Regions from separate parts of the Homo sapiens genome. Here all the other regions are linked to region 2. The links come from fine-mapping of genetic effects on gene expression. A gene starts in region 2. Each other region holds a variant in brackets. All regions are shown on one strand. Distances are between the middles of the regions. Region 1 has its middle 95 kb from the start of HEAT2. Region 2 holds the start of ADRA2A (adrenoceptor alpha 2A). Region 3 overlaps LOC124902499 (a long non-coding RNA gene). Region 4 has its middle 36 kb from the start of HEAT2.

The links. PIP is the estimated chance that this variant, and not a neighbour inherited with it, causes the effect.
Region 1: its variant is fine-mapped to the expression of ADRA2A in caudate (GTEx, PIP 0.98).
Region 3: its variant is fine-mapped to the expression of ADRA2A in prostate (GTEx, PIP above 0.99).
Region 4: its variant is fine-mapped to the expression of ADRA2A in whole blood (INTERVAL, PIP above 0.99).

What each region holds. Positions count from the first base shown.
Region 1 is chr10:111,205,574-111,213,680 of GRCh38, reverse strand. No RefSeq gene overlaps it. Among named protein-coding and RNA genes, the nearest start is that of HEAT2, 95 kb to the right of the region's middle. The variant T/C (reference allele first, on the strand shown) is at 4,262.
Region 2 is chr10:111,072,070-111,080,176 of GRCh38, reverse strand. It overlaps ADRA2A (adrenoceptor alpha 2A), which reads right to left and starts at 3,148. Exons shown (of 1, transcript NM_000681.4): 1 at 1-3,148. The coding sequence starts at 2,180. The coding sequence ends at 783. RefSeq lists a silencer at 3,136-3,185.
Region 3 is chr10:110,846,465-110,854,571 of GRCh38, reverse strand. LOC124902499 (a long non-coding RNA gene) reads left to right here. Exons shown (of 2, transcript XR_007062287.1): 2 at 1,631-3,932. Among named protein-coding and RNA genes, the nearest start is that of PDCD4-AS1, 20 kb to the left of the region's middle. RefSeq lists an enhancer at 1,729-1,778. The variant T/C (reference allele first, on the strand shown) is at 3,458.
Region 4 is chr10:111,145,945-111,154,051 of GRCh38, reverse strand. No RefSeq gene overlaps it. Among named protein-coding and RNA genes, the nearest start is that of HEAT2, 36 kb to the right of the region's middle. The variant A/G (reference allele first, on the strand shown) is at 3,216.

The sequences.
Region 1 (8,107 bases), 130 kb before region 2:
TGTGTGTATATGAGTTAGTACACACACACACACATGTTTTCTACTTCTGTCTGCTAAGACAATGATATCCAGGTTGCAGTGAGCACACCTTGCACCCAGAACTTGGTTTCTAATTACCATTTCTCAATAAAAGAAGTAAGAGCTCCTTGGAGAACAGGTTGATACCACGTTTGAGGCAGGATAAATGAAAGATGAGTCTGCATCTTCTTCTGACGTCAGAAATTAAAGAAGTGCTTTTTAAAAAGATGGTGCCATGTTGAAAGAGCACAGACGCCAACCTGAAAGAATTCCTAGTAGCCAAAATTAGAATAACTTGAGCAACAAAACAAGTAGGGGTAGAACTGAATTACACCCCCAGTTAATAAAATAAATCTCCATAGGTCCATGTTAAGACAAATTAAAAAAGAGAGAAAGGGAAACAAGACAACTTTTCTTTACAGAAGAAATTTCAGTTTGTGAATGTGGAAGAATCAGGGAAATACAAAATCACTATTAAAACACCACAAAAATAATCAATGCAGACAAGATCCATAAAAAGATGCTAAAATGAGTGGGGAGAAATTTAAGCAGAAACTGAATATTTATATAGTTTCAAAGTATCTCCAAAATTCTTAGTAATTAAAAAGGGGACTATAGTAGCTTTACAGTGAAGGATCCTGACAGATGCCACTTTAACCAAGGAATTGAGGTCAACATCATCAGTAGTATTTATCAATATCATGTGCTTCCTGGTGCAAGGCACTGAGAAAGGCACACCACCTCTGCAGCATCTCCCCAATAATACATAAGCTCAGTATAATCAGGAGAAAATGTTAAAACAACCTGAACTGAGGGAACCATCTACAAAATAACTGACCAGTGCTCCTCAAAAGTGTTGAGGTCACCAAAGACAAAGAAAGAAAGAGAAATTGTCACAGATTGAAGGAGATAGAGGAAATACAGAAATAAATGCCACATGGGATCTGATTGGATCTTAGAATAGAGAAAGGACATTAGTGGAGAAATGGCTGAAGTCTGAATAAATTCTGTAGTTTAATGATACTGTACCAAGGTTAATTTCAGAGATTATTATTTTATGGTTATGTAAAACACTAATATACAGGGAGGCAGGGTAAAGGGTTTACTGGCCTTCTTGGTAATATTTTTGGAACTTTCCTGTAAGCGTAAAATTTTCCAAAAATAAAGTTAAAATAGATTAAATGGAACATTTTTAACACTGTTGTAAAATATTTTTCAAAAAGATAAACATAAGTATAGAAGCTCCGAGTCAATAAAAGGATAATTTAGAAAAAAATTGGTTTTAGACATATTTAAACAGAATTTTATGAAATAAAAATATAATCACTGAAATTTAAAGAAAAAGAGAAAACATAGGTAAATGACTGGTTAAACTGTAGACATAGCCAACCAAAGAGAGTATCAGTAAATGGACATTCAATATCAAAATTTACTGAAAGTATTGCATAGAGATAGCAGATGGGGAATGTGAAAGAGAAGTAAGGAGTATGGAATAAAGAGCAAGAAGTAAGGAAAATAGATGATGAAGGAAAGGATACATCCAAAAACATGACGTAGGAATTTTTCAGGGTAAAAGAGAGATTCCTCAGATTCAAAAATCATTAGTCATGATCAGGATAAATTTAAGCAGCTTCAGAATTTTTAACCCAAACCTTTATGAGAAACAAGTTTATCAACTAGAGTATTATGTTTGTGTGCAATTCTTTTGCCTGTTTTACTAGATACACTGCATTCCAAGGTTCCTTCGGTTAACTCCTTTCTTCCCTTCAGTGGAATTACGTGATTTGTTTTAAATGCAGTTACATTCCTTTGCCCTAAGTCTGCATTCTAACTCACCCACACACACATACAGACACCCTGGTTGATTTTTCTATATTTACATACAGTAAAATATATTCTTTGTGGTTTGTCATTCTATGCATTTTAAGAAATACACAATCACGTGCCCCACCACCACACTTCCATACAGAAGAGATCTACATATGATTTACAGACTATAATTATCTCCATTTTACATATGAGTAAATGGGAGGAAAAAGAGGTAAGTAACTTTGCCTGAGGTCATCCAACTAGTAAGCAAAGAGCTAGACTTACGTTTGGGCAGTCTTGGCCCCAGAACGCCAGCTGAAAAATTCTATGCTACCCTTGGGTTTCCACACCCAGCCCAAGTCTACATGAACATTTGATTGCCAGAAACCCTGCCACCAAGGGATCCCAAAGGTGCAGGTGCAGGTGCTGAAGTCCACTGCTACGGGATGTTGAGAACCTGACCCAACCTTCTGGGAAAAGAGTCATGAGTACACAAAGAGCACTTCTTTCAAACTGTCAAATAGCTTGAGATTGGAGAACAAAGGAGACACATCTTGATTTCTAGCTTCATATTTCCTGAGGATTAGATTAATCTTCTAGCCTGTGACCCTTTGAAGGTACAGATGACATTGTATTCATCTCTATATTCCTATTACTTAGCAAATGGCCGAAGATTAATCTACATTTCTTGAATGAATGCATGCAGCAATCAATGAAAGGTTATAAATTTAAATATCAAGAGCTACCAGAGAAAAGTTATGGACCATAAGATTTTCTCCCTCTTTCAAATGACATTCTATATCCTTCTCATCACATGGGAAACATTATACCCCAATCCTCCAGTCCTACTAACAGGGTCTCAGGCACCATGGTCTCCACAGTCTGCATAGGCTGTAGATATACTTGACCTGTTAGCTAAATTATAGATAATGGCGTGGGGCTTAGTGTTTCTCTGAAGCTCTTTCAGCCACATGGAACTATGTGGTAATGCAAGTCAATGTGAAACAAACATATGAATAGATGATGGGGGATGGATGGATGGATGAACCAAAAGATTCCAACACATTTTAAATAAAAAGCTACACTTACACAGGATTTTTTGGTTCTCTTTTATAGCCATATCCCCAGTGCCTACCACATGCCTTATGCACAATAGTTTCTCAATAAATATTTATTGAGTAAAAGAGGAATGAAAAGGAAATGGCTGATAAGTTGTCACCGCTACCAAACACTAAAAGGTAGAGGCATTCTTAGCTTGTTCATATATATATATATAGAGAGAGAGAGAGACAGGGTCTCACTCTGTTGCCCAAGTGGTACAATCATTACTTAACTGCAGCCTTGACCTCCCAGGCTAAAGTGACCCACCCGCCTCAGCCTCTGGAGTAGCTGGGACTACAGGCATGTGCCACCACACTCAGCTAATTTTTTGTATTTTTAGTAGAGATGGGGTTTTGCCATGTTGCCCAGGCTGGTCTCAAATTCCTACACTGAAGTCATCCACCCACCTCAACCTCCCAAAGTGCTGGGATTACAGGCATAAGCCACCACGCCCAGCTTGTCCATATAATTACATAAGCTAAGCTGTACCTCAGCTTCTCTAACAATTTCTGCTAAGACTTATGAGACATTTCAAAGAGCTGATCCTTGTAGGCTGATGTTTGCATATCCAGCCTATATAATGTGGGAATATCTCGAAGTTAAACAGATTTTCTAAAGCCCTAGTAAAAGAATGCAAAGGAGAGGAAGAAACTTCCCAAGGGTCAATAAGACGATCTACTGAGATACCATCAACTTTCTTCACTGCACTCACCAGAATCTGCAGGCAATAATGTTCAGAGACACAACACTCCTCACATAATCAGAAGATAAAGCATTGCTAATGACATCCAGGGAGACCCTCACTAGAGCAAATTGGCCTGGATGGAAAGCAAATTTGCATGGCAAGGCAAGCAGCCAACAGGCTGTAGTGGCAGATGCTCTATGCCTGACCGTGTAAAACAGAATCATAGTTTCAACGTGCATCACTTCCTTTGGTCCTGTTGAGTTCTGGGAACGTGAGGGCAGATTCTCAATTCCACCTTCCAGCATAGCCTTCTACTCAATAATTCCTTATGCAGGATCATGTTTATTGAATCAATAAGCGCATACACTGTCCTTGAAATCAGTGTGAATATGCTCAATTTAAAAATAACTGGAGTGTTGCTTGGTCCCCAGGGTATTCCCTGAAGAACTCCTGCCAAGGAGAGGGTCTGCTTCTCAGGGGTAAGAATTTATAAAGGAGACAGCATTTCATGAATCATAAATTTCTGTAGAAGCAAGTTTTCTCTTTAGGACCTGCAAGACCACAATCAATAGTGAGCTTTGAATAAAGTTCTTCATAGAGACAGCATGCAAATGCTGTCCCTCAGAATCTGAAAATTAGGATTCAAGG[T/C]ACCCTGCCTGTTCATGGTGGAGTAGGGCTTTGTTAGCAAAACCCAATTTCAATGTTTGTCCAAACTCACCAAGCACACTCCTGTGAATCACTCATGCCAACTCTGCAGAGCCCATCTACTGTGGAACCTGGTACATTTCTGGTACAGAGCCGTCCAGGAAATTCTCTGTCCTGTCACTCATTCCCTTTGTCTCACAAGAGGAGCATTTTCCTCCACCATGGTCCTCAGGAAGACAAGCCCCTCTCAGAACAGTAGATGGCTCTGAAGCTGAGGGAACACGAGGCACATTCACAAATACCAAATTCACTACAAATTACACAGAGGGACCAGGAAAGCTGCCCTGCAATGTGCTGGAGTCTTGCCCTGTCACCGTCCACTACCCTGAATGGAGGGAATGGCTGCATCATGAAGTTGTGCTGGTCATTCTGTTTGCTTCCTTGGCATCAATCTCCATCCTTCTCTGCCCTGGGGGTGGCCTCCAGGAAATGCATCTTCAGGGCTCCTTTGCTGCCTGCCTACCAGCAGGCAAGAAGATTCGAGGGTCGGGTAGGGGTCAGAGGGCCCTCTTTGGGCCACTGTGCTGGCAGGGTCTTCTCCCCTCTGCACGTCAGCCCCTACTGGGCAGCCACTTCTCCCCCCTCAGCTCTCACTGGGTTCCAATAACACTGTTCTCTGACCTTGATGCTTCAAGCCAAGAGGTGGTAAAGACCCCTGCTCTTGCTTGTCTGTGGGTGCCTCAATATCCCTTGTTGATCCTCATAACCCTGCCCATTGCTCTGAAAGTCTTCCTTTCACCAAATCATCCATCAGACTTGTGTTTCCTGGCAGGGCTCTGGCTGGTGGAGAGGTGCCATGGAAAAGGTATTCATCTTGGATTAAGGGAAGCTGAGTTCTGAACGCTGCTCTGCTTCTGACTAGCTGTGTGATCTTGAGGAAACCACTTCACCTCTCTGGGCCTCAGCTGCCTCATCATCAAAATGTGGAGGGTGAATAGTCCAGGGGAGCCCTCACCACCCTCTGGGCTCCCTTTTACACACACACACACACACCAGCAGTCCCAGTGGCATGCCTCCAGAACCCCAGGGCTGTGAAGGCTGTGTTTGAAAGCTATAGTCACTCTTATTCTATTATTGACTTTGATATTTGATATACGATTAGATGACCTTCTCTGGAGAACTTACCGAATGACTATGACAGCAATGCACTTAAGAGACACTGCTTAGGGATTTACAGGCTACCCTGGAGGAGCATGCTGGGGCACCAATTGCACCACACATTGTTCCCCTCCTATGGCAAGGAGGCCAGCCTTCCTCCATGTCATCTGCCATGCCTGGGGCTGTCAGAGGTAGGGAGAGTGGAGGGGATGCTCTGTGATGAGACACCTGTACCCCTGAGGACAGGTCTCAGGAGAAGGCCACAGCTGTGCACCCTCAAGGCCGAGACTCTCAGCACCTGGGGTGGAGGGATGGGGGGCCTCCCACAGCAGCCACTCCTGCAACCCCTCTGTTTCTAAGCACCCCATGGCTTCCCAAGTGCTTTCCTGTTAATCACCTGCCGTGATGCTTGCAGCATCCTTGTGAGGGCAGCTACATTTGACAATTACATTTGACAAGTAATAGACAAGCACGTTTGCGGTACCTGAAGAGTCAGAGGCCTTCCCCAAAGTCATCCAGCCCAGCCAACAGGGGGCACTGGAACCAAACTCCAGGCGCTGTGCATCTTTTCCGGAACTAAACATTCAATTCATGTAGATGATTAAACTAAATTACTGGCTTTGAGGGCTTCATATTTGGAATGAAGCCAACCTTTGTGTGTTTCCATTCATGATGAGAAGCATGTCCCCTGGCTCTTCTCCACATTGGTCACAGGCCTACCCTGAAATGAAGACAGCTGTCTGTGAACCTTGACCTCTTATGTGTACTTCCCAAGTGCTTTTGTGAAGGTAATCTCACACAGGTGGGGCTGCTTTGGCCAAGGTCACAAAGCTATTTTCCTCCCCAACCAAGTTTGGTCTAGAGTTCATGTCCCTTGATTCTCAGTCTGGTGCTGTTTCTATCCCCCTCATTGTCCTTTAGTCATTCAACAAACATGTGTAGAGACCTACCATGGACCAGGCCAGTGCTAGCAGCTGGGTGAAGGAAGAGTGGTGAGCAAGGTCCAGTCCCCACCCTTAAAGGAGTTTAGAGGCTGGTGGGAAAATTGATGCAAAGGAATTGCTGTGATGAAAGTGTGTGTCCAGTGTGCTGGGACACAAAGGAGGAGCACTTCAGCCTTCTTTGCTGAGACTGTGCAGAGGTGCAGGGGAAGGGCTGAGGCTGGAAGCTTTTGAGGATGAGTAGGTGTCCTCCAGGTGGAGCACGGTGGGAGGAAGCAGCATTCTGAGGAATAGAAGGAGCTACCTGGGCAAAGGCATGAGTACGCATGACCCACATGATAGCTCAGCATGGCAGAAGCATCCAGTTCAAGGGGCATGGCCGTGATGACCTGGGACAGGTCGTCAGGAGCCCAGGAACAGAGTAACTTCTCTAAGTCCATAAGTAGAGCAGCAATTTCCTGGGGAGGGGACCACAATGAAATTTGGGCTTCAGAGCCATCAAAGGATTTTCAAGTGAGTCATAGCAGTATACCTCTGCAATGACAGCCTCACCCAGGCATGGTGTCTGAGACTTTGACCAAAAAGGTTGGAAAACCACAACAACAAAATAATAACACTTACTAGAGCAGCTGACAGACATACAGCACTTAGCATGCCAAGCACCAGAATGAGCCTTCCCTAGTGTTATGAACAGAGTTTTATTGCAACATGTCTGACTTGTCTCACTCTGTGCAAAGAAGATGTGAACAGGCTTTAAAAAATAGTCACCCCTGCTGTTATGGCTATCAGGCTCAGCTCTCTCAGGAAGCTGCTCTGAGCCTAGTAGGATGAACTCACCTCTGGGTCTCCTGAACCTTGGCTGAGAACCTAACATCCTCAAGATGAGTTGCCAAGAGTTTCCTGAGTTCTATGCTTTGCCTCCTTGGTGAGTCTGGGGCTCCTGGGGCCAGAGATCACATATGTACCCTTCATATCACTGAGAGCTATACTGCACACATTGAGGATGTTGAATAAACAAAGATGGATGGAGGTGGCTCCCTCCTCTACCCCAAACACAGCTACAAGGTACAAGCTGTGCGTGTCCTTCCTGACAGCTTGTCTGTCCAATGTGTCTCCCCAGGAGGGACAGCATTGATTCCCTGGCATCTTACCTTCCTGTGATCAATTTCTCTTGACATTTGTCAGACTCTAACACCTCTTCTGCCGCCCTTCAAGGGGCGGGTTCTTTCCATGGAAACTGTGAACACAGCCCATTTGAAGGGAGATGGCTGTTTCCTTCTGTTTTTCCTCCACTTTTTAGTGGAGAAAAATCAAGGCAAAGGAGACCAGAAAGAAGAGGAGCTAAACAACTGCAGAGAAACAAAAACGCTAGGTGCAGGGTTTCAAGTACTGGATGTTCTCAAACGGTCAGAAGGTAGCCTAGCAGGGGCTTAGAGTTAGCCACTTCCTACATGGTGATTTTCTCCCCAACCTCTGGTAGAGCCTGGAGTTCCATGTTACAGAGTCATCCCTATGGATTCTGAGTGTTTTCCCATCTCTTTCCTCTGTCAGTAGCCAGGAAGGTGGTTATTAAACCATAAACACTTAGTAGCCAAGATCTCAGAAATTAATTTAGCATATGCTGCTAACTTGTCCTCATGAAAGTGGGACTGCAATATGGACTACAGAGAAAGCAAGACTCCAGGAAGGTGGAAAAATCAGAAGAAGGAAGGGATATCCAACACACCCTGAGTAGGCATCCATCCTATGC
Region 2 (8,107 bases):
ATATTTACATAGGAAAAGGCAATTATGCTGTTAGGCACAGGAAAAAAATGGACAGAAATCTTTTCCCTGTCAGGAAATCTCAAAGCAGGTCCGTGTCGAAGGGACAGTCACCAGTTGCTGGTGAAAACGACGACATAGAGGGACTTCATAACACCAGAAAGGGCTTGCATTGCAAAGGGGCTTGGCCTGAACCAGACAGCTGTGTCTGCCTGGAAGGCATCTCTCCCAAGGCCAGGATTTCAACATCAAAACCAAGGCCAAGAGATATGGGGGCCCCATGTGTGCTATCAAAAATAGTGTATATTTACAGCGGGGGATGGGGAGGGCAGGCAGGGCTGCCCTTAGCATTTTTCTTTAAAAAGAGAGAGAGAGTTGGGAATGGAAGGGGAATTAGCCAGGGCTAGGTAACCCCCATCCATTAACCTTTTGTGAGCCATGCCCTTGTAGTCCAGTGCTTGCTCTGAAGAGCTGTGAGGGCTGTACCAGGCGAAGAGGGTGAAAATACCTTTAGGAAGCAATAGTGATTAGGGGTGGCCCACTAGGAAGATGGCTCCAGGTCAAGAGTGGCCAAACCAACAACTGGGGATGTGTGGGCCTGGCAGCAAGAAGCTTCCCTTGTAGGAGCAGCAGACGCCCGCCCGCAGGAGGCTGCAGAGCCACCCCAGACGAGGAAACGCAGAGCAGGCAGCGCCCGGGTTTCTGAGTGCCCTGGGGCTAAGCACCCCTCGATGCCCCCCGCTGCCTGCAGTCAGCGTGAGTCTACGCGGGCGCCAGCGGAAACCTCACACGATCCGCTTCCTGTCCCCCCGACAGAGGATCTTCTTGAAGGCGCGGCGGAAATCGTGGTTGAAGATGGTGTAGATGACCGGGTTCAACGAGCTGTTGCAGTAGCCGAACCAGAAGAAGAATTTGAAGAGCGTGCGTGGCACGGAGCACCCGACGGCCGTGAGCGTGTAGGTGAAGAAGAAGGGGAACCAGCACACCACGAACACTCCGATGACCACGGCCAGCACGAACGTGAAGCGCTTCTCGCGGTTCTGCCGCCCGCGCCAGCGCGACGCCTTGGCAGCCCCGACGCGCTCCTCCCCCGGCCCTGCAGCCGGCGTCCCGATCCCCGTCGCCCCCGGCCCGCGCCGCGGCAGGCTGTCGCCCGGCTTCACCTGGCTCGCTCGGGCCTTGCCTTTGCCCCGGGGACCGCGCTCGGGTCTGCGGGGCCCTGGAGGCCGCTCGGCGTGGTCGGAAGACGAGCTCTCCTCCAGGTCCAGCGCGTCGGTGTCGCGCGGCCCGGCCGGCGCGGGCTCGCCAGGGGCGCCGTTGAGCTGGGTGGGCAGCGGTTCGGCCTCTGCGCCCCCCGGGCCCGCGCTGCGCTCGGGGCCCAGACCGTTGGGCCTGCGCTCGGTGCCCCCCGGCGGCGCGGCGACGGCGTCCGGACCCCGGCGGCTGGGTGGCACGCGGGTGCGACGCTTGGCGATCTGGTAGATGCGCACGTAGACCAGGATCATGATGAGGCAGGGAGCGAAGAAGGAGCCGATGCACGACGAGATGACGTACCACTTCTGGTCGTTGATCTCGCAGCGCGGCTCGGCCGGCTGCGGGCCGCCGCCGCCGCCCTTCTTCTCGATGGAGATGAGCGGCGGGAAGGAGATGACGGCCGAGATGACCCACACGGTGATGATGATGGCCTTGATGCGGCGCGGCGTGCGCTTCAGGTTGTACTCGATGGCCTGTGTGATGGACCAGTAGCGGTCCAGGCTGATGGCGCACAGGTGCACGATGGACGACGTGCAGAAGAGCACGTCGAGCGCCAGGTAGATCTCGCACCAAGCCTTGCCGAAGTACCAGTAGCCCATGACCTCGTTGGCCAGCGAGAAAGGGATGACGAGCGTGGCCACCAGGATGTCGGCCGAGGCCAGAGACACCAGGAAGAGGTTTTGGGGCGCCTTGAGCGCGCGGCTCGTGAACACGGCGATGATGACGAGCACGTTGCCGAACACGGTGAGCAGCATGAGCAGGCCGGCCAGGCACACCAGCGTCAGCGTCACCTGCAGGGAGTAAGGGGTGGCCCGGGCGCCGCCCCCCGGCGCCTCGGTCCCGTTCCAGCTCGCGTTGCCCGCGTCCGGCTGCAGGGAGCCCATGGGCGCAAAGCTGCCCTCGGCCAACGGCTGCTCCTGGCGGAACATGAACGCGGGCGCCCGCTGGCCTGGGCCTGCTGCCAGCTGCCTTCCGGCCCGGCGCCCGTGGGTCCTCCTCTTCCTCCGGCGCCCCGCTCGCCTGGCTGCGGCTCACATAGGGAGGGGGCCGCAGGGAGGCCGGGCCCGAACTGGAGGACCGCTAGCGGCCCATGGCCCGGGTCCCGCGAACTGCGCCTGGCTCGCGCTTCAGACGCTCTCGGTGGGCGCCTTCTTGCTCCGAGCTCCTAATACAGCCAAGTTTTATTTCTAAGCGGCGGGAGAGAGTAGGGAGAGCCGATGGGTAAAGAGAGATTTATTCTTCAAGAAGGGAGAACAAAAATCATCGGTGGCCTGATAACTTGGAAGGATGACAGGAAATTAAATATATATATACATATCAATATCTGTATCTTGAATCTTGAGCCTGAGCGAAAGCAAGAGGTCTTACCGTGTGCGGGGCCCGCCCCCACCCCGGGAGGCAGCCGAAGGGTGCTGATGCGAGCTCGGGGGTCCTATGTCTGTCGCCTTACATCCCCGAAGCGATTACCGACTCTCTGGCTTCCCCCAGACGCTGCGGTTCTGGCCCGGCCCGGCCCGGGGCTGGGGCGCGGACTCTGCCGCCTCTCGGAGCGCCGCGAGACTTCCAAAGTTGTGCGCCCTGCTGGGGCTGGGGCACACTGTGCGGAGCTCCGGGACGGCGGCGGCGGCGGGGTGAGGAGTGTGGGGGCCGCATGAAGGCACCCCCGTCCTCAGGCGGGCCGGGGCAGGTGAACGATCAGCTCTCCAGGAGCCGCGACGGAGGCAGGGGTTCTCCTGGGCGTCCGCCTGGTGGGCGCCGAGCGCTGCTGGATGGGCCGGGGTCCGACGACAGCGCGAGTTGGGGCAGGAGCGCAAGGCGGGGAAGAAGGCGCTGGAGTGGCCGGGCGGCGGCACGCCGGCTGCTGGGCTTCTGCACCGAGCTGGAGCTGCTGCTGCTCCGCTGCGCTCACGGTGGACTCGTTTTATAGCCCCAGGATCAAGCAAGCGTTGCTGAGCAGCCGGCGTCAGCCCCCACGTGGGAAGCCGACCCTCCCCCGCCCCTCGCACCACCCCTCCGCCAGTCTAGCGCCCGCGCCTAGCGCTGGACCTCGGGGAGCGTTGCCCTCAGGCGGGACGAGCCCTTTGGAGAGGCGGGTACCTTGAGCTAGAGACTTAAAGAGGGAGCCCGGGGGTGGGGGGTAGGGGAGGAGCGGCCCCTGCTGGGAGTTGGCCATGCAGCTCCGGGCCGACGGAGCAGAACGCAACGGGCACCCGTGAGTGCCCCCAAGAAGCTGGATCTTGGGAGAAAAGGGAAGAAAAAAATGGAAGGGAATCCCCGCCCAAATCGAGGGAAGTAACCTCCGGTGTGAGTTACGTCTGGAGCAGCCCAGCTCCGGGCCAGAGCCGACGCGGTCCGCAGGTGCTCCTGGAGGCTGGGGAGAAAGGGGTCCTGGAGAGGGAGGAAGGCGCGGCTTCGGATGGAACCCCTGGGGCGGAATGGACAGCACCCACGGGGAAGTGGTACAAGCCGGAGTTCAGACCTCCGCTTAGGGAAGAAGCGGCTACGTGTCCTCCCAGCCGCGATGCTGTCTGCGGGAAACGCAAGACCCGGGGTCTGGACCGCGCCCCCTTAGACCGAGGTGGGGAGGGGTCCAGGAGCCGAGCGCCAGGGCAAAGCGAGGACGCACTGACACCTGCTGGCCGCTCGTGGTCACGGCTGAGAAGCGACCCGCTGACGCCAGGCGCCTCCTCCCGTCTCTTAGGTCTTCTGCCAACAGAGCCTTCTCCTATCTCCGAACAAATTGGTTTCTAAGCTCAGGAAAGGAGAACCCAGAGTTTGAATTGCACCCTGCCGTGTTGCAGAAATCTTCCTAAAGCAGATACTCGTGTGTCTACCCCTGGCGGGAGTGGGGGTTTGTCTAATAAAGTCACATCAGGAAGGGCTCAGCAGGCACCGCCGGCCAGAACGGGCATCCCACTCTGGACCCGCACAGCCCACCCTTCCTGCAGATCCGAGAGAGGCCAGGATCCTGCCTCCTTGGTTGCACAGCTCTGGCTTGCTGGGAATCATTATGTTTTTGTTGAGGACCGAAAGCTAGACTCCACTCCCGCCCCGCATCCCACCCCCATTCAGATGTACACACAGCATCCTTCAATAAGGGGAAGAGGGAGTAGAATATTTTCCATGTTCTCTCTGATAAGAATAGCGGTGGGGGCGGGGGGGAGTGGGTGTGCGGCGAATGGCAAGTTTTTCCGTGCGTGCTAGCTGTCCTAGGATAGATTTTAACGGTCACTAGAGCACTAGCTTGCACCCTGCTAGCTGCACTTTTCAGATGAGAGCAAGCAGTTTAATGGTAAAACCCAAGAGGGTAGGAAATTTCAGCAGGAGAGAGATTAGACTTAAAGGAATGTCGTCTTATTTAAGGAACCACTAAACCAAAATGCCTTGTGCAGTCACCTAAGTTGGAATTCCAAGGATGGAACAGGCTGCCTCTCTGTGCAGCCAGCTGCAGGCTTAGGTCTGGCTGGGGGCTGATGGCTAAATTAAGGGCCCTGAGAATCACCTTCATTCCCAGCTGATGTCTATAGCCCGCACCAGTGATACAGTTATTGGTGCTGCTGCTGTTCATGTAGTCTCAAAATCTGTACTTTCCAAAGTATTTCACAGAAGTCTCATTTGACTTCAGTACCTTTGTCTCCCAATCTTTGCCCTAATGGTATAAACTCCCTTTCCAGTGTTAGTTCTGAGGAGCCTTTCTAATCTCCCTTTCTGGACAATCTAAAGGAAGCTGAGAAGACAATTTCCTCGCTCTGTTGAGTCACTCATTTTCCATCTTCTACTAAAGTCTCTGCTCTGAGGCTCTTGGCAGGGGCTTTGGACATCGCCAGTAGGCTCAGTTGGAAACATGGCTACAGTCATTTTTGCACAGCAACTAGGAACCCCACACTTCAAGTATGAATACTAAGAGACAAAAATCAGAGCCCGTGGCAATCTGGGGTTTGCTGTGTTGCTGTTTGTAGAACTCGGGAACTGAGTCTTAGGAGACCATCACTTACCATCTGCACCCCAGCTTCCAACACACTGCTCTTCTTCCTAATTTCAGAATCAAAAGAGGAAATAAAAACAAAGTTTACAGTAATTATCTTTCTTGAAATTTCTGCTGCTAGCCTGTGTATGACACCTCTTGTCATATTTTCTAAATGCTTCCCAAACAGCCAGGTGGTTTCTTAATTCCCTGATTTGGAGTCTTTTCTCCTAAAATGGGAACAGGTCTTTTCAGAGCCAGGAACCCTGAGGCCAATACACAACGAATACCAATAATAACAAGTGCTGCATTTTATTAAGTACCATGATGTATGCACCATGTGTAGGGTGATATACATGGCCCCTTTATACACAGAGTTCTTATTCCTGTCACATGTTCCTTATCACCAAAGGTTCTGCCTCCTCAGTTTGTCACACAGGGTCAGTATCTCTGAGCTTTGAAAAGCTATGTGGACACCATTAATTTTTGCTAGAAGATTTCATGCTGTGCAAGCTGAGTGAGACATTGCTGAGCAGAAAGATATCCACAAATATAATAATTCTCAACCAGGCCTATAGATCAGCATTTCCTAGGAAGACAAAATACACTTACCAATGCCCCACCAGGGAAATTATTCACCAGGTCCAAGGTGGGATGCAGCATGTGTATTTTGACAAAACTCCTTGAGAGCTGCAGGTGTGCACACCCTGCTGAAGACTTACCACCCAAAGCAATAAATCTCAGTGGGGGACAGGAGTGATGAGCAAGTGCCCTTGTGGGGACAGGAGGCAGTGTCCAAATTACCCGGGGTAGGAAGCCAACTTGAGCTAGAAAGAGTGGGCCCCAGATTGAGAATCACTGCCCTGAGCCAGTGAGACTGCTATGACAGTGTCATAGCCCTCCAGGGAGCTGGGACAGAGCAAATAGTTGAGAGCCACTGTAAATATGGAGTTTGGGTTTGATGGCCTGAGAAGGAGTCATTTCTGGGGACCCAAATGGGGGTCCATTATTACTTATATTATTACTAAAAATAAATAGTACCTATTAGCACCAACCACATGCTAGGCACAATGCCAAGCAGTTTATGTACTATATATTATATAATTCCCAAAACAATCCCATAATGTAGATTTTATTATCTGCCTTTGTAGATGGAGGAAACTAGGCAACAGACTAAGTAAACTGTCCAGCTAATAAGTGGCAAGGACAGAGCCGAACTCTATTTTTCCTGGTGGTAAGCCCAATGAGCTTTCTAAGTTCCTTACTGTGAATCTCCAGCCTTGATCGCACTGCCAAAGAGAAACCTGCAAAATGTTCATCAGAAATGAGCACATTGACAAGTTAGCACATCCTCCTTCTAGCCCTGTCCTTTCAGTCCATTGATGTCTACTAGATTAGGACAGTACAAGGCAAGATGTATTCCCTCTTTCTGTATCTAATGCCCACTCTTGGAGGCAACGTCACATACACTCTAGGAGACTGACCATTCCCCAACAGCCAAGCTGATGGAGAGCAAGCACTACACCAACTGGTTAGGCAACCCCTCCTCCTCCTAGTAGAAGCAACCTCTCTCTCTCATGGGTGCCATACATATTTTATCATGGCTTAGATGGACTTTTCTTGCTCTAGCTTATCTATTCATTTGTATGATGATCTAGCAGGTAGAAAGGACTGTCCTTTTCATCTCTATTCCTAGAGCATCTCTAAAACAGGCTTTTTAAAAATCATATTTCTAGTACCTACTCCTTGGAGATTCTGATTCAGTAGGATGAAGGCGGGGCCTGGGTGTTTGCATTTTTAACAAGTGCATGAGTAATTCAATAAATACCAAAATATAACACACAGAGCATGGATACTTGATAAATGTGTGATGGATGAATGTATGAATGAATGAATTCTACTTACACTGAAGCTATCAAAGAGGCAAGAGGGGCCCAGAAGTTGGTGAAGTTGGTGACTACGATGGCTAGCATTTTATTCCAAAATCAGGATTTCTTAATAGTTGAGGTAGCTTAACTAGTTCAAGGATATAAGTATAGGATTCTCTCATTCTCTTTTTTCCTAAAAGGAATATGTAAGTAGAGGAAGATAAATTTATAACTATCAGCTAGGTAATTTGCCAATAAAAGAAAGCTTCTTAAGATAAATCATCTGTCCTCATGTTATATCTGAAACTAAAGTATCAGGCAATACCAAAATTTGTCTTGGCTTCTATGTCTTTGATGGTGACTTCATCTAACAAAAGTGAGGGAGCTGGCTGGGAGAGAATATTAATTGCTTACTTTTTGAAAAAAAAAGACTTGACTGTCTAAGAAAAAGAAAACATGACTCATTTAGCCTGGACTCCTAGGCTGTGACAAAATCCTCACAGATAGAAGCAATTTGGTCACACACACACATAAACACAGGCCACCCCCCCACCCACCCACCCCTGCCCCCACCACAGCCTGAACTTAAACACACACTTGCTAGTCTGAACATGATGAACAGGTGGGGAATGCAATGTTCCCGCTACTACTCATGCCGTGTGCACAGCTGGAACCAAATGCTGCAGTAAGCTACAATCATCTGTCAACTCACTGTATTGCTGACAAGGGGAAGGGGGGAGTCAATAGGGAAAACTCTATTGCTTCCTCTAAGCTATTACTTAATTCCTCCACTTCTTTGTACCTGTGCTGAAGCCCTTGGGAATCCCATCGTTATTGAAGGTTAATGGAAGCCAAAAGAAAAGCATCAACTCCAGGGGTGCTGTAAGGAGCTGCCTTATTCACCACCTACCATGTTCATCATTTGACTGCTGGATCAGTCTTGCTGTATTCACAAAAACAAGCGATGAGTCCTGCCATCGCCTTTATCTCTTTCTAACGTGCTAACCCATCCTGCCCCAGCCTG
Region 3 (8,107 bases), 230 kb after region 2:
GTATGCTGAGAATATAAATTCTTCATCTATTCCAAATGTAAATTTCTGATATACTAAAGATGCAATTATAAATATATGGAGCCATAAAAGTATTATAAGCAAACAGAGGAAAATAATTACATAACATCAGCATGGGGAGACTGCTTACACAAGACAGGAAACCCAGAAGCCATGAAGAAAACTATTATAGATTTGAATATTGAAACATTTTAAACTTCCACATGATGAAAGACAGCACAAAGTTTAAAAAAATGATAGACCTAGGTAAAATATTTGCAACACTTAAAACATGAAAGATTAATATTCCTAATATCAAACACAGACCTCTGGCAGTTCAGTACCTGCTTCAGACCCTGATACTCACCCCTGGGAGCTTCAAAACACAGTGTCTTTTCTCTCTGCCAACAGATGTTTATGCTTAATGTACAAAAAGTGCCTATAAGTAAGAACAACTCAAACATCCAAATAGATAAATAGGAAAGAAATATAAACAAAGAATTCACAGAGGAAAGGCAAATGGCCCATAAACATAAAAAGATGTTCTCTGTTGTCAAGGAAATGCAATAATTAAAAACTTGATAGTACAGAGTGCTTGCAAGGATATCTGGAGTTCTCTCACACACTGCTAATGCAAGTGTAGACTGGCACAACTTTGGGAGGAAGGTGATTTCATAGAATCTACTAAAATGTTAAATGTGTGTCCTTTTTGACCCAGCAACCCCATGTTCAGTACTCTGTCTTACAGAAATAATAACACAGATTCATAAACCTGTACATCCATTGCAGCAAGATTTGTAATAGAAAAACATTTAAACCAAGAAAAACATCCATCAGTAGGTTGTGTTAATTATCATTTATCCATATTAGGGAATATTATACAGTCACTGAATAGTACAATATTTTATCTGTGTTGACTTGAAATGATATACACATATTGTTGAATAGAAACAAAGCAAGTGTCAGATCAATATGTACAGTAATATGTAGCTTGTGAAAATATGCATGTGTATCTATATCTATACATATTTGTGTCAGTATAAGCCTAGGGAAAATCTGGAGGTATTTGAACCAAAGCATTATTAATACAAGTCTGGGAAGGGTATTGGATTGGTGAGGAAGAAGACTCTTCTCTTTACACGCATTTTTTATAGTTGAAAGTATTCTCTCTGCTTTGTATGTAAATTTACTGAGGCTTATAGAAGTTGTCATTGCCAAGGTCAAATAATGGAGCTACTGAGTAGCAGAACCAGGCTCTGGGTGAGGTTCATTCGGCCCCAAAGCCCATGTTCATTTCACATTGCTAGGCTGCTCCCGAGGTATAGGGTTAGCAAGAATAGCTTACAGGATTCTATCTGAGATCTTAAGGACCCAGGCAGACAAGATTAAGTCTATGACTAGCCCTAGAGGCATTGCTTGGATGTTTCTGGAAGCAGAGGAGAAAGGGTGAGTTGCAGGGATGTCCTGGGGACACACCCTGCTTTCAACTTTTGCCTCTGTTCCTGGAGGTGCTAGGCGGTAGTCACTGAGTGATCTAGATTGCCTTTCTGGGATGCTTTTTTTCTTCCTCTCTGTACCGTTTCCTCAGTGGTAAGTTGTGAGAAAGATGATGTGCCTGTTGTCTTATCCACAGATTTTCTGAGAGGACAAAAGGCGATTACTGTGGACTCCTCTAAAGGCTGCAGCCATAAGGAAAAAAAAATTTCTAATCTGAAGAAATGAAACGAAGCTACAAATGAAACAAAGAAATGAAACAAAGTTATAAATGAAACAAAGTTACAAAGAAGTACTTAGCCTCCTGAGAGGACCATCCCTGCACCCTTGCTGTGCTCAGGAGTCTTGAGCTCTTAGAGGCTAAGGCGTCTCATTAGCTACCCTAGGCAGAAAATGTGAAGAAGGCCTTAGCAGGCAGCTTTGCCCTGGGATGCCGCTCTCCACCTTGTTTTTCATGTGCTGGTGCTGCTTTTGCCTAACTCTCTGACCAACTGCCTGAATCAATATGACAGAGCAGCCCTATCCTGGTTGACATTCCTGGACTTGGCTTTTCCCCTGCTGGTCTCATGGCACTCACCTGATCCTTCCTCCCGGTAGGTTTCACACAGAGCACTTCTAGGTAGCCGTGCCCTGGGCAATGTGACTCACTGACCAGCTGACACACTTCAAATTCCAAAGCTGTCAGGGTTCACTTTGACTCATCATCCTATCGACATGTACATGCAGGCTGATCAATTTCCAGTGACCTGCCTCTGGATAGTAAAGTCCCTGAGGACAGTGACCATGTCCATGTGTCCGCTTTGTTCACCAATTGCACACTCAGGACCATAGAAGACTCCTAGAAGAACCTGGTGACTAAATGAATATAGGAAGAATCTACTTAGGCTCCCTTTTCCCCTGCCATATAAAACAGCTTAAGTCATTGAAGATAATCCACTTGAGCGGGGATTGGCAGACATTTTCTGTAAGCAATCAGCTAGTACATCTGGGCAACATAGTAAGACCTCGCCCCTACAAAATAAATTAAAAATCAGCTGGGCATGGTGGCAAGTACCTATAGTCCAGCTATTTGGGAGGCTGAGGTGGGAGGATTGCTTGAGCCTGGCAGGGTAATAAGCCTGATGGCACCACAGCACTCCAACCTTGGCAACAGAGTGAGACTCTGTCTCAAAACAAATCTGGGATTCCCAGGCAAGTGGCAAAATCGAGGTTATGATATAGGTACTTAAAAAGCAGAAGAGAAAACAAATTCCTATGATATTTGTATTAGTGAAGTTCAAAGTATAATAATGAATACAGTTTTTAGATAAAACATATCTCCTAATAAGAAGATTAAAATTCTTTTTTCATAAATAGCATTTTCCTTAGTTGGGGCTCAAAGTGTTCTATCATTAAAATCAATTGCAAATGTTCATCTGCTAATGCTGATGTGTAAAGAGATTTTATGTATTTCATATTTGATTTTCATATAATTCGCATATGTCATAAAATATTCTTTTAATTTTTTTATTGATTCTTAGCTTGAGGGCAGCACAAAAACAGACAGTGGGCTGGATTTGGCTTCAGGCTGTAGTTTGTCAGCCCCTGCACTTGAGGATACTAGAGAGTAAAGTATTCTCATTCTCTCTCTCGCTCTCTCTCTTTCTGGCCTCAATCTTCCAAGTCCTGCATTTTCTAAAACCTTGGGGTTTCCAAGACACTTTCACTCCTGTTCTTGGTGCCCCTTCCTTCTCAAAGAAGGAAACACAAGTCTGAGCCTGACAACTCCAGAGAATACGTCCCAGGGGCTTCGTTATTTCCCAACTGAGCAGAGTCAGAGCTGCTAAAGGCCTTTCCTTTTCCAAAGCTGGCATTAGGTCTCTGTCAACCACACAAAAACCGCTGGGAAGGGCTTGCCTGTGCTGCTTCTCCACCTCAAACCACAGAAGAAGGGCGGCCTCAGAGAGGCTGGGTAATGGGAAACAGT[T/C]GTGCTTGCCCAGCCCCGCTCACGGAGGGAACATAATCAAATGCATAAAATCTCACTGCATCCTGAAAAACATATCATTTTGGGAAGACAACTGACCACAGCACAGAGTTCAGTGTTGGCAAAATAACATAAATAATGCACTACAAGGACCTCACCTTTTGTAAATATAGAGAATACTAAGGAGATCAGATACTTGTGAAAGCATCAATCATTCATGGATTCATTAATCTATTCAACAAATTTTTCAAGGGTCTCTCATGTGTCAGGCACCGTATCAGGCCATGAGCATACTGCACACTGCAGAAAATAAGACAGTCTCTGCTGTCATGAAGTTTGTAATGGTGTTTAAGAGCATTTGCTAAAGCTCAGTGTTCCATGGTACATTATAAATATTTCTTGAATTAAAATGATTGCATGGTGAAATAGTTGGGGAAAACAGGGGTTAATAAAATAACCAGGTTACTTGATTGTGAAACCTTTCTGTGTGGCTTTCCATTGAGAGTCTCAAGAGAGAAGTATATAGAATGCAGCCTTCCCAAGCTTATTTAACTGTGGCATTCTTTTGTGAGTTGTATTTTGTGGCACCAGAGTCACATGGAACATAGTTTGGAGAGCACAGCTCTCAGGACCACTGGGCACACCCATGTAGGTTGTGCACTGAACAACTCTGATGGGACCACTCTCATAGACTACCATATTACATGGTGCCCTGGAGCTGTATGACAGTGGACATGATCTCTGTAACTACAGGGCAGAGCATGGGCAGCACAGCGTTCATTTGACTACCGCTCAGCCTCCTAGCCTCTCACTTTTTCCCACAGAACAGCAAAGGTGCTAGTGGTTTTACCCACCATTGTTTTTGCCCCATCAGTGTGAATGTCAACACAGTGAGAAAGGCAAATAAAATCTCAATGTGGTTATAAAAATAGTTTTGACTTCATGCAGGGATCTGCAGACCACACTTCGAGAACCATTGACTTACAGCTAGCAACCTCAGAATTAGAGTGTGTCTTTTTGATGGTACTGACAAAATCACAGGGAACATTTTGATTGGCCCATTTGGATTATGTTCCTCATCCTGAATCAATTGCTGTGATGAGGAGGATGAGGTTCTCTGATTAATCAGGCTTGGATCATGTGAACACCTCTCTGGGAAGGACAGGACAGATGGGCCCATGCAAATCACAGGGAATGGGTTCCCGCAATAAGCAGTGGTTTTCTTGCAGGAACAAGAGGGAAGGGATATTGCACAGGCAAAAATAACTTATGTAAAACATCAGTTCAATAGGGTAAAAGAAGTTAGTGCCTAGGCTAGTGGCTGGGCCTATTCCTGGGAGAACCTGAGGCCAGCACCAGGCAGGAGAATGGATTAAAGGTGATGAAAAGATTCTTAGGCAGGATCCCTGCCCCTGAGGGCACCATGTCCTGCAGCCAGTCTGGCTTAGCCCAGCAGGCAGGATGAGGCAACCAGACCCAGGTTTGGTCAGGTTGTGTGTGTGTCTGCAGTGGTGGGTACTATGTGTGTTTGCAAGGGCAGGTGCTTCTCTCTGTGGCTCCCATCAACAATGTTGGGGTATGACTGTTTATATGTTCCCTATCTTAGCCAGACTTGATTCAGGAATTGGAATCCAGTGGGTCTTCAGGCATGGCTGATAGATCAAGGCAAAAGGGATTCAGATATTAGAAGCTGGGGATGGAGAATGATTCTCTAGACCATTCATAAGTCAATGGAAATTCATTATGTCACACCAGCCATTGCAGTTTAAAAATGGCACTCACTCAAATGCGATTTGACCTGTCTGAGCTTTTTCACTTTTGCCATTTAACACTCTGAATCTACTTACTTACTCTCAGAATTACTGAAACACTGAACTAATACAACCAATCAGGAGCATTCAACTCTAGTAAACAAAACTCTTCACTCCTGAAATATTCTCATTCTCAGATGTCCTCGATGCCATACTTTTCCCAGATTTCCTCCTAATTCTCTGGCCGCTGCTTCTCAGGCTCTTTGCATATCCCTCAGATGATGGAAGTCTTTAAGGGCTCTGCCATAAAACCTCCTTCCCTTCAGGCAATCTGATCTGTCCCCAGTCTCTAAAGACATTTCTTTCTTAAACCACTGCAAACCACACTGCCTTCTGCATGCACAAATATGTTCTTTGTGTACTAAGTCTCCATCAATACTCTCCTCAAGAGCCTGGGATAATCAGAGCAATCAATACACTATGGGCACCAACGCTATCGTAAACCTAAACATACATGGGTGGGTGTGGGGGGTGGAGGGGTCAAGTCATTTGACCATCCAGATGTCCAGACTATGGTATGGGTATGGGGGAATGTGTGGATATGGTTCTGTGCATATGCCTATTTTTCTTTTTTCTTTTTTTGAGATGGAGCCTCGCTGTCTTGCCCAGGCTGGAGTGCAGTGGTGCAATCTCAGCTCAATGCAACCTCTGCCTCCTGGGTTCAAGTGATTCTCCTGCCTCAGCCTCCCAAGTAGCTGGGTTTACAGGCGCACATCGCCATGACCAGCTAAGTTTTGTATTTTAGTAGAGATGGGGTTTCACCATGTTGGCCAGGCTGGTCTCAAACTCCTGACCTCAAGTTATCTGCCTGCCTTGGCCTCCCAAAGGAATGGGATTACAGTTGTGAGCCACTGTGCCTGGCTGCATGTACCTATTTTTCTACCCATCTTTCAGATTGTCATTAAAATGAAAAAAAAAAAAATCTATGAAGACTAGGAGAGGACTTGACTACAGCCCCTTGAGAATACGTGATTGCTCAACCTTTAACTGCTTAAATGAGTTTGTCTTATGTGCAGGCACATGCAGTAGGTGCTATGAGGGCTACAGGGTGAAAACAGGGTGAGGAGGAGAGGACCTGACCCAGATGCACGACTGTCAGCAGAAGAAGTTTAAGAGCCCCATGCAGTCCAGTCCCAGCATGTTGTGTATTAAAAAATCTAAAAGAACTTTATCCATATATTTTAATACACACAATTTTTTTTACATTTTAACATTCCTGAAACTAGGATGTATTTAACAAATGTGTGTTAGAGTTTAATTGACTGTGTCGTTTTCTTTCTTAATTGTACAAAAAATAAAGATGAGAGAGTTACAATTGATGCCCTCTTAGATGAAAAATATTATTCGGATCTTTCAAAGAACATAAAGTGAGATCAGATATGCAATACATAGCAACATGTCGTTAAATCTCTCCTTTTTTTGGAGATTTAACCCAGAAGCCTCACATTCTCTCTCTACTCTCCACCAAAACACCTCAAAACATCCCTGACTGCTTCCCCAGAAAGAGTGTGAGAGTGTGTTCTCTTTCTTCCTCCCCCGCTTTTTCCTCTTCTCTCTGGAAGTCCATCTCAACCATCCTTGGTGGGCCTCTCCCCAGCCCCGCTCCTCTGGCTCTTCCCCAACCCTGCTGATTGAGCTGCTCTACTTAATAAGAAAAAGAGAGAGGAGTAAATGCTTGGCAGTTAAAATTTTCTTTAGCAAGGATGAGGAAAGAGATAGAGGCTTTGCATAGTCCCACAGGAATACTTGTTGAACCAGGAGCCAAAAGAAACAGGCAGATAGAGCGGCTGCAGCCCAGGGCCAGGATGGATGGGAGTGTTACCTGTGATGGGGCATCCCGGGAAGGCTCAGATTTGAAACTGCCAAACGTGACAGCTCTCAGGGAGCTTCATATGCACGCATACACACTTGCACACATGCACATGTGGACAGACACAGGCACTTGCACACACGTGTTTAAATAATAGGTTGATGTCTTTCTCTGCTACGTCACACCAGGAGGGAAGGAGGCTGGGCCAGGATGATGGTCTCATTTCCAGAGAGGAAAAGGCCTGGGGGTGAGGAGGGGAGGTAGGGGGAAAAGGAAGTGACCCAATCAAGTCACCCTGCAATTCAGTGGAAGAAGCAGGATGGGCAGCATAGGGTTCATATGGCTTTCCTGGGCTGGCTGGGCTGTCTCAGGTGGGAAATCTGGGCTGCAGAGAGCTTGGGGGATTTGTCTCATCCCAAAGCAGAAGGGTTGCATTAGCCTAGCTGGCTCGAGACCAAGGCATCAGAGGGGCCGAAGTCACACACCTATCCCCACACCTGAAGTAAAAACTAGCCACAAAAGGCTGGACAACATGCTGATGAGTGGCCTCCCCCAGATGAAGAAGCCTCATAACTGGGGAAATGTGGAGCTGGAAGGAGGAAGGGGCAGCAGGAAGGCAGCCTACGGGGAGAAGATCATGCTTCCCCAGGACCTTAGGAAAAACAAGGGAAAAGCTGGGAGGATGAGTCTACAGAGAGAGGGAGGAAGGGAGCCCCACTTTGGCCACCCAGCTGCACCCTAGTGTTTGGGTCCTTGGCCCCTATAGTGTCCAGCAGCCAGCTGTGGAGTCTCAGTGTTCTCATGGTTGGAGAAGACCCCTGGGAGAGCTCAGGAGGCTCTTGCTGATGTGGGTGGGCTGCACCCTGACTGGCCAGTTCCCACCTCTCTGAGCTGAACGCTGTTGCTGTGACAGGATCATGCAAGAAGCCAGTCCTGGGTATGCTGAGTGTGCCATGCCCTTTGCTGGGTGCTCAGCAATGGGAATATAAATAAGGGGAGAGGCTGTGCTCAGGAGGAGCTCAGGAAGAAATC
Region 4 (8,107 bases), 74 kb before region 2:
AATGTACCCATCTGACAAAGGTCTAACTATCCAGAATCTACAAGGAAATTGAACAAATTCACAAGAAAAAAAATCAACAACCCTATCAAAAAGTGGGTGAAGGATATGAACAGACACTACTCAAAAGAAGCCATTTATGCAGCCAACAAACATATGAAAAAAGCTCATCATCACTGGTCATTAGAGAAATGCAAATCAAAACCACAATGAGATATCATCTTACGCCAGTCAGAATGGCAATTATTAAAAAGTCAGGAAACAACAGATGCTGGCGAGGCTGTGGAGAAATAGGAACATTTTTACACTGTTGGTGGGAGTGTAAATTAGTTCAACCATTCTGGAAGACAGTGTGGAAATTCCTCAAGGATCTAAGAACCAGAAGTACCATTTGACCCAGCAATCCCATTACTGGGTATATACCCAAAGGATTATAAATCAAGCTACTATAAAGACACATGCACGTGTATGTTTATTACAGCACTATTTACAATACCGAAGACATGGAACCAACCCAAATGCCCATCAATGATAGACTGGATAAAGAAATCGTGGCACATATACACCATGGAATACTATGCAGCCCCAAAGAAGAATGAGTTCATGTCCTTCGCAGGGACATGGATGAAGCTGGAAGCCATCATTCTCAGCAAACTAACACAGGAACAGAAAACCAAACACTGCATGTTCTCACTTATAAGTGAAAGTTGAACAATGAGAACACATGGACGCAGGGAAGGGAACAACACATGCTGGGGCCTGTTGGGGCACTGGGGTGTAAAGGGAGGGAGAGCATGAGGACAAATACCTAATGCATGTGGTGCTTAAAACCTAGATGACGGGTTGATAGGTGCAGCAAACCACCATGGCACATGTATAGCTATGTAACAAACCTGTACATTCTGCACATGTATCCCAGAACTTAAAGTAAATTGAAAAAAAAAATAGAAAAGGCAAAAAATAAAAATAAAAAAATAAATTATCTTCCAGCCATAGGCCATTCAATTGATCAGTAATCTTGTTTATCCCTATCAGGATTGCAAGGGAGGTAGGAGATGAGAACCCAGGAGAGTGACAGTAGACACAAGCCTTTCTACTGCACAGCTATTACCAAAGGATCAGGACTTGCATCTTCTGAAAGAGAAGTTCAAAACAGGCAGGGTTGAGGAGTGTTTATTTTTCCTTTTATTGTTTTAGAAACAGCAGGAGGTAATCAGCTTGTGAATTAAATAGAGACACTTGTGTGGTTCTACCTGCGACCTCCCAGCTTGCTGTACATAGCTCAGATTGCTTTTAATAAAGCAATAGTATAAAGGGGTATAAGCACCACACTCACACATGAAATGGAGAGTCGTACCAGCTCTTCCTGCTGCCCTCCCACACCGCTCCTCTATGCTTGATTCCCTGCTACCCAAGAGTAGAAGCACTGTGCTCTCAGACAGGTGAGAATGAATGGACTGCCTGCAGCCAGAATTTACCTAAATGCCACAGCATCTAGAGGAACAGGTAAGAGCAGCTTCTAGGGGAAAAAAATCCTTCAAGATTGAAGTGTTCCTTGTAGTTCCCTGTGAATTCGCAATACTGAGGAAAATGATCACAAACAGGCACAAAAAGAAATCAGTGTGGGAACACACACACACAAAAAAAGGAAAACGATGATAGTCACAAGGGTGGGCACCTGCTCTGAGTGTCAGGGAGGGCCACTCTGAGGGTGTGACACTTGGGTCAAAGCCTGGAGGATATGTGGAAGGCAGCTTCCAGCAAAGGGAGCACAAAAGGCGGCATCAGCAGTACACACCACGTGAAGCCCTTCCCAGCCAGGTAAAGGGAAAGGAGAGAACGGACATTCGTTAAGGAGCTGAGCACCAGGCAGTTCCATCTCATCTGCATGCCTGAAACGGTGGGTGCACATGCACGTGTGTAGTTGTATTGAAAATGTTTCATGTTCCTTCCATAGCTGGAGCTTTTTTTAAATGTATTTAGCAAGCTCAAGACAGGCCCAGAGCATGGAAATAAATGACCAGATGAATATGTCAGCCGGGTTCAGCAGGCCATGTCAACAGACCATAGAAAACCATTCCTCGTCAACATCAAGTCTTCCTTTCCTTTTCACTCTGAGTGTCGCATCCCCCGGCTTTTCCTCTGCGCTCTGGGGAAACCTTCTGTCAGTCACCCACGGAGTGCAAGGCACCTTTCCCTCCAAACGGTTTGAAGCAGACAGAGCTCCCTCACATTTCACAATGAGCTCGGCCAGATTTATGCTGGGTCATTGAGCTCCATTAAGGTTGCCATGGTTACTCCAGGCCTGTATTACCTGGACTTCTGATGTGCTGGATGCAGGGGCAACAACTGCTTTGCTTCTTCTGTAATTTGCCAGAAAAGTGGCAGAGAGGCTCAAAAGGTAGAAATGCTGGACAAGAAAGGTGCCAGAGTTTAGAGAGATGGTTGGTGGGGAGAACATATCATCCACCAATGGAAAATGAGGCTCTTTCCTAAACCCACCAACCTGTGAACGCCACCAGGGTAGGGCCTCAGACAGATAAATCTTGGTATCCCCTACCACCTACAACAGGGCCTAGCACATAACAGATGCTCAACAAATGTGATTGATTGATTTTGAAAAAAAAGTAAGAAAAGTAAAAAAGGAAAGAAAAAAAAGTAGCCTAAGAATTCAAACAAAGAATCCATCTTGGACACTCCTGTTATAAGAAGTCAGGGGATAACGAGGAGATTACAGGTAAAACTATGCCTCTCTCACTGCAAACCAAAGATCACAGACAAGGAAAATTTTCCAGGTAAGAGAAAGGACACGAATATGTTGGAAGGCAGGCATGTCAGTTTCAGTCCTCCAAGAAATAAATGTCAAGAGAGCAATAGATATGCAAGAGATTTATTTGGGGAAATGTCTGTAAAGCATAGAAGAAAAGGGAGCAGGAGAGGAGAGGAGAATGTTTGGGTCACAATGCAGGTCTAACACCAACAACAGGAGAAAAAGGGAAAAAGGAAGATTGGCTAGAAAGAGCCTCAGAGTGTAGACCAGCTCTGGGAAAGTCTCTGCCGGGTGGATCAAGAGGCTCCGAGCAAAGGTTGCCCATTCGAGGAGTCCCACACCGAGCAGGAATGGCCAACTCTAGTGTCCTCACTGTGCTCAGTCACTGGCTGGGTGGGGCCCACAGGAAGCGTGGTCTCAGCATGAACGTCACAGTGGACCCAAAAGT[A/G]GGCAGCTGAGTCTCTTCAGCAACTGTGCTCCCCACAGAGAAGATATCTGTGAGCAAAGCATCTCCGTGACCACCCAGGGGCTGCAGGAGTAGAAGAGGGTTGGGGAGGAAGCAGAAGAAGATCCTTGGGAGGCTACAAGCTGGAAGGAATGTGGTTGGAGGTGAAGGGTATGTCTTCAGGGCACAGGGGCAGGGCAAGAGGTGGCTGGGAGGCTGTGCTTATCCTTGCTGTTTGTCTACCCAATGTCTGTTCTGCCCTTCTTGCTTAAGCATAAAACCTCTCTATGTCCCTTTAGATCCCCTTGCATCTGGAAGCAGCCATGTGGCCCAATTATGGCCAGTAAGGTATAAACATGGAAAGAAAATTCTGCTGGATGTTCCTAATAAAAAGAGACTAGCAAGTGCCTGATGCCCTCCCCTCTTCTCCTCCTTCCTACCTGCACCATGGATCTGAGGCCAACAGGGAAAACAGTCATCTTGCTACCATGAGATAACAAGCAGGGGAATGAAAACCACATGCTAGAGATGGTGGAGTGCAAAGATAGGTCACACCTGGAAAACTGACACCATGGCAGAGCTGCTGCCCGTGGCAATCCCACCTCCAGAATTCTTGTTATGTGAGAAAAATAAACCCACCTGGGGTTAAGCCATGACGTCAAGCTAGCATCCCATGCAGCCAAATGCAAATCCTAAATAATCCAAAGGAGACTCAGGTGGAGGGCTGCTCCCAGGTGAGCCACGGGCCTACCTCCCCATCTTTCAGAAAATCAGCATTATTCATCACTGCAGCTGAATATCCTTGGCAGGATCAGAGCTCTGAGGGGAGCGGGCATGACAAAGTCACTCTGTCTTACCAATGGACAAGTCCCAAACTCTGCCCTCAGGTAGTTTGCAATCTAATTAAGGAAACCGAGCAGAGAAATTATCCGCTGGTCTTAGTATTCACTTCTACATTCTATAGTTTCATCACTATCAGCTTGGCTTTTCATTCCTCTGCCACTGTCTTACCCACATGCACACTAACCGTGACAGACTTCAATAAGAGCTGCATCATCCTTTCCCCTTTTCACCCAGGGAAGGCTTGGAATCCTCCCTGCCCTCCAGGCAACGCCTACCACTCTGTTAAGGTTGGCCCTTGAAATGAGACCTATTTATCTGGCTTGATGTTATCTGCAAACTTGAAGATTTCAGACCACAAAAGAGTTAAAATATACCTTTTCCCATCTCAACAGACTTATGACAATTTACCCCTAGAGACCCTCAGAAAATTTGCCTCCCAGATACCAGTGATAGTAAAGAGGCATCCAAATCCACCCATCCCCCCTCACTAGCACTGGAAAGCGATCCAACCCTTCAACTGGTCTACCAGCAGGAACTCCTGCTTCCAAAGCTTGGGAAGAGGCCTGGCACAAAGCAATTACCCTGCTAGATCCCCTTGCATCTGGAAGCAGCCATGTGACCCAATTCTGGCCAGTGAGATATAAACACACGGAAAGAGAATTCTGCTGGATGTTCCTGATAAAAAGAGACTAGCAAGTGTCTGATGCCCTCCCCTCTTCTCCTTCCTACCTGGACCATGGATCTGAAGCCAACAGGGAAAGCAGTCATCTTGCCACCACGTGACAACGAGCAGGGGAATGAAAACCACATGCTAGAGATGGTGGAGTGCAAAGATAGGTCACACCTGGAAAACTGACACCATGGCAGAGCTGCTGCCCGTGGCAATTCCACCTCCAGAATTCTCGTTATGTGAGAAAAAATAAATCCACCTGGGGTTAAGCCACGAAGTCAAGCTAGCATCCCATGCAGCCAAATGCAAATCCCAAATAATCCAAAGGAGACTCAGGTGGAGGGCTGCTCCAAGGTGAGCCACGAGCCTACCTCCCCGTCTTTCAGAAAAATCAGCATTATTCATCACCACAGCTGAATATCCTTGGCAGGATCAGAGCTCTGAGGGGAGCAGACATGACAAAGTCACTGTCTTATGAATGGACAAGTCCCAAACTCTGCCCTCAGGTAGTTTGCAATCTAACTGAGGAAACAGAGCAGAGAAATTCTCCACTGGTCGTCGTATTCACCTTTACATTCTATAGTTTCATCACTATCAGCTTGGCTTTTCATTCCTCTGCCACTTTCTTACCCACACGCACGCTAACCGTGACGGACTTTAGTAAGAGCTGCATCATCCTTTCCCCTTTCCACTCAGGGAAGGCTTGGAATCCTCTCTGCCCTCCAGGCAACCCCTACCACTCTGTTAAGGCTGGCCCTTGAAATGAGACCTATTTATCTGGCTTGATGTTATCTGCAAACTTGAAAATTTCAGACCGCAAAAACAGAGTTAAAATGTACTTTTCTCATATCAATGGACTTATGACAATTTACCCCTAGAGACCCTCAGCAAAGTATTTGCCTCCCAGATACCAGTGATAATAAAGAGGCACCCAAACCTACCCATCCCCCATCCCCCCTCACTAGCACTAGGAAGTGATCCAACCCTTCAACTGGTCTACCAGCAGGAACTCCTGCTTCCAAAGCTCGGGAAGAGGCCTGGCACAAAGCAATTACCCTGACAAACAACGGTACAGTTGGCAGTCATGGAAAAGAGATTTCCAGGCCACACTTCACCTGTCAGCACGTCAATCTCAGATGTCAGCAGCAATGTTGGCTTACCACCATGACTCCAAGGTCAGGCCCCGGAAATCTGATCAGCTCTCTGTGTTTCACAAAGACACAGCTCACCGTCCAGAAAATTAATTAAGGTCTCCATAGGAAACAGAAAATCCTAGTCTTTAAAAAGTAAAATCGACTCCTCTCCCCTCCTCCTCCTGTCCCCAGGAGACTTGCATAAGGTCAATCTTCTCATCTTAGCACAATTTCTATATCTCTTTCTAATTGCCTTCACAGAAAAAGTTCCCTCTGGACCGTCCTAGTTGTTTCTTCAATCTGGAGAAAAAAACCATTTGATGATTAATAATTATGTAATTCCATTTCCAATTCGGTGACCATTATCATTGGATGAGGTGACTGCAGAGTTGCAAAAATGAAGTCTATCAATAATTCTGACATCTAAGTCTTCAGTAAAAGGGGTGCCATGGGAGATAGGGTGGGGTTGTGAGCACTGCAGTCACTGTGTGGTTAAATGATTGGCATCCACCTTTTTCAGAGACTAAGAATAAACTTATCCCTATTAAGTAGAACAGATACCAGTGATAAAATCAGGGCAGTAGAAGCAAGCAAAAGCTGGCCCCTTGGAAAAGGTACCTAAGAAGAGGAGGCAGAAAAGGCAGGATGCTGTGTTCTGCTCCCTGCCACTTCACGTCCCACCCCCTACTGCCTTCTTTACCCAACATAAAAAGCCTCACTCCCAGGCAGACGTCAAACTCCCGGCTCCTTCACCCGGACTCTAACATCTTAGCCATTCCCCCTACCTGCTAGGCTTAGGTTTGCCAACTGCTCATCATTTACTGATCTCCTTCACAGCCTGGACCAGACTCTGTATCACTTGCTGTTATATAATGAGATGGTTTACAGGTCGGCTTAGCTATCTACAGTTCCCAGTTATTCCAACAAATACCAACCTAGGTGTTGCTGTGAAGGTATTTTGTAGATGCGATTAAGGCCCATAATGAGTTGAGTTTAAGTAAGAGATTATCCTAGGTAATCTGGGTGAGTCTGATTCAATCAGCCTTAAAAGCCTTAAGAGCCAAACTGAGGCTTCCTTGATGAAGAAGAAATTCCACCTGCAGACTCAAGAGTCAGCCCATGCTTCAGAGTTCCAGACTGCCCTTCCAGAAAGCCTGCAATGTGGATTTTGGAGTTGCCTAGCCAGACCACCCCCCAACCAAACGAGCCAATTCCTCACAATAGATCTCTTCCTATATATCTCCTATGCCTCTGTTTTTTCTGGTAGAACTCTGACAGATATGTATCATTAGAAAGTTTGCCTTCAATCCACTCACCTAATTTTACTAAAATAAATGTATTTTACACACAAAATTTACCTCCTTTCTATAAGGAGAAAACTAGCACCACCTTCCATAATAGAAGGAAGCCATAAAGAGAAATACAATAAAATCCAATTCAATGCCATGGAATTCCAGTTGGATGCTCCTGCCTCTCACAGGCTCCAAGCATTTGGAGCTGGCTCATCCTGCTAGTGTCAGAAAGAAAATGAAAGTTGGTCTGGTGCTGGGAGTTGTGTACATCAAGGACAAAGTCTCAGGGAGATTCTTATCAGAAGGAGTGATGGAGAATTGAGAAGAGAATATGTTTCCCACCACGTGATCCCTGTTATTTAATGCTATACCCATGTATGTCCCATCTGAAATCATCCCAGGTGCAACCAGAGGTTTCCATCCAGCACTTGCAGATACAAGACTCCAGGGTTGTGGGCAAGTAGCCAGGGAGCACATGAAAGGCTTTCATTCTCAGTGTCTGGAGCAATTGCCTTGATGTAACTGCAGGGGAGCTGCTAGTGCCAGAACAGACTAAACCCACATGCCCATCTTTACTATGCACCCTGAGAACACTGCCCAGCAGAAGGCTTTCTACTGACATATCAGGGTGGCAAGTTCATGCCCCTCCCTCAGTAGGGGAAGCAGCAGAAGCCACATCATCACATCCCTTCCTGAACAGCAGCAGGAGGCATCACCTCAAAACTCTCAGGTTGTGGCTTCTGGGGCTTCCTGTACCAAAGGGGAAAGGGTCCCAGGCCCCAGGAAGTAGTGTTCAGGAGGAAGTAGCCATTGGTGACTTCCCTGCCTCCTGAGAAACACTGGCTGTGTGCCTATCTGCCATGACATTGTTCTTCGAGCTCCACTCCCCATGTACAGGAACTGGATTAGTAGTACATCCTTCAGAGCTCTTTTCTAATACCCTGCCTGTGTTACTGG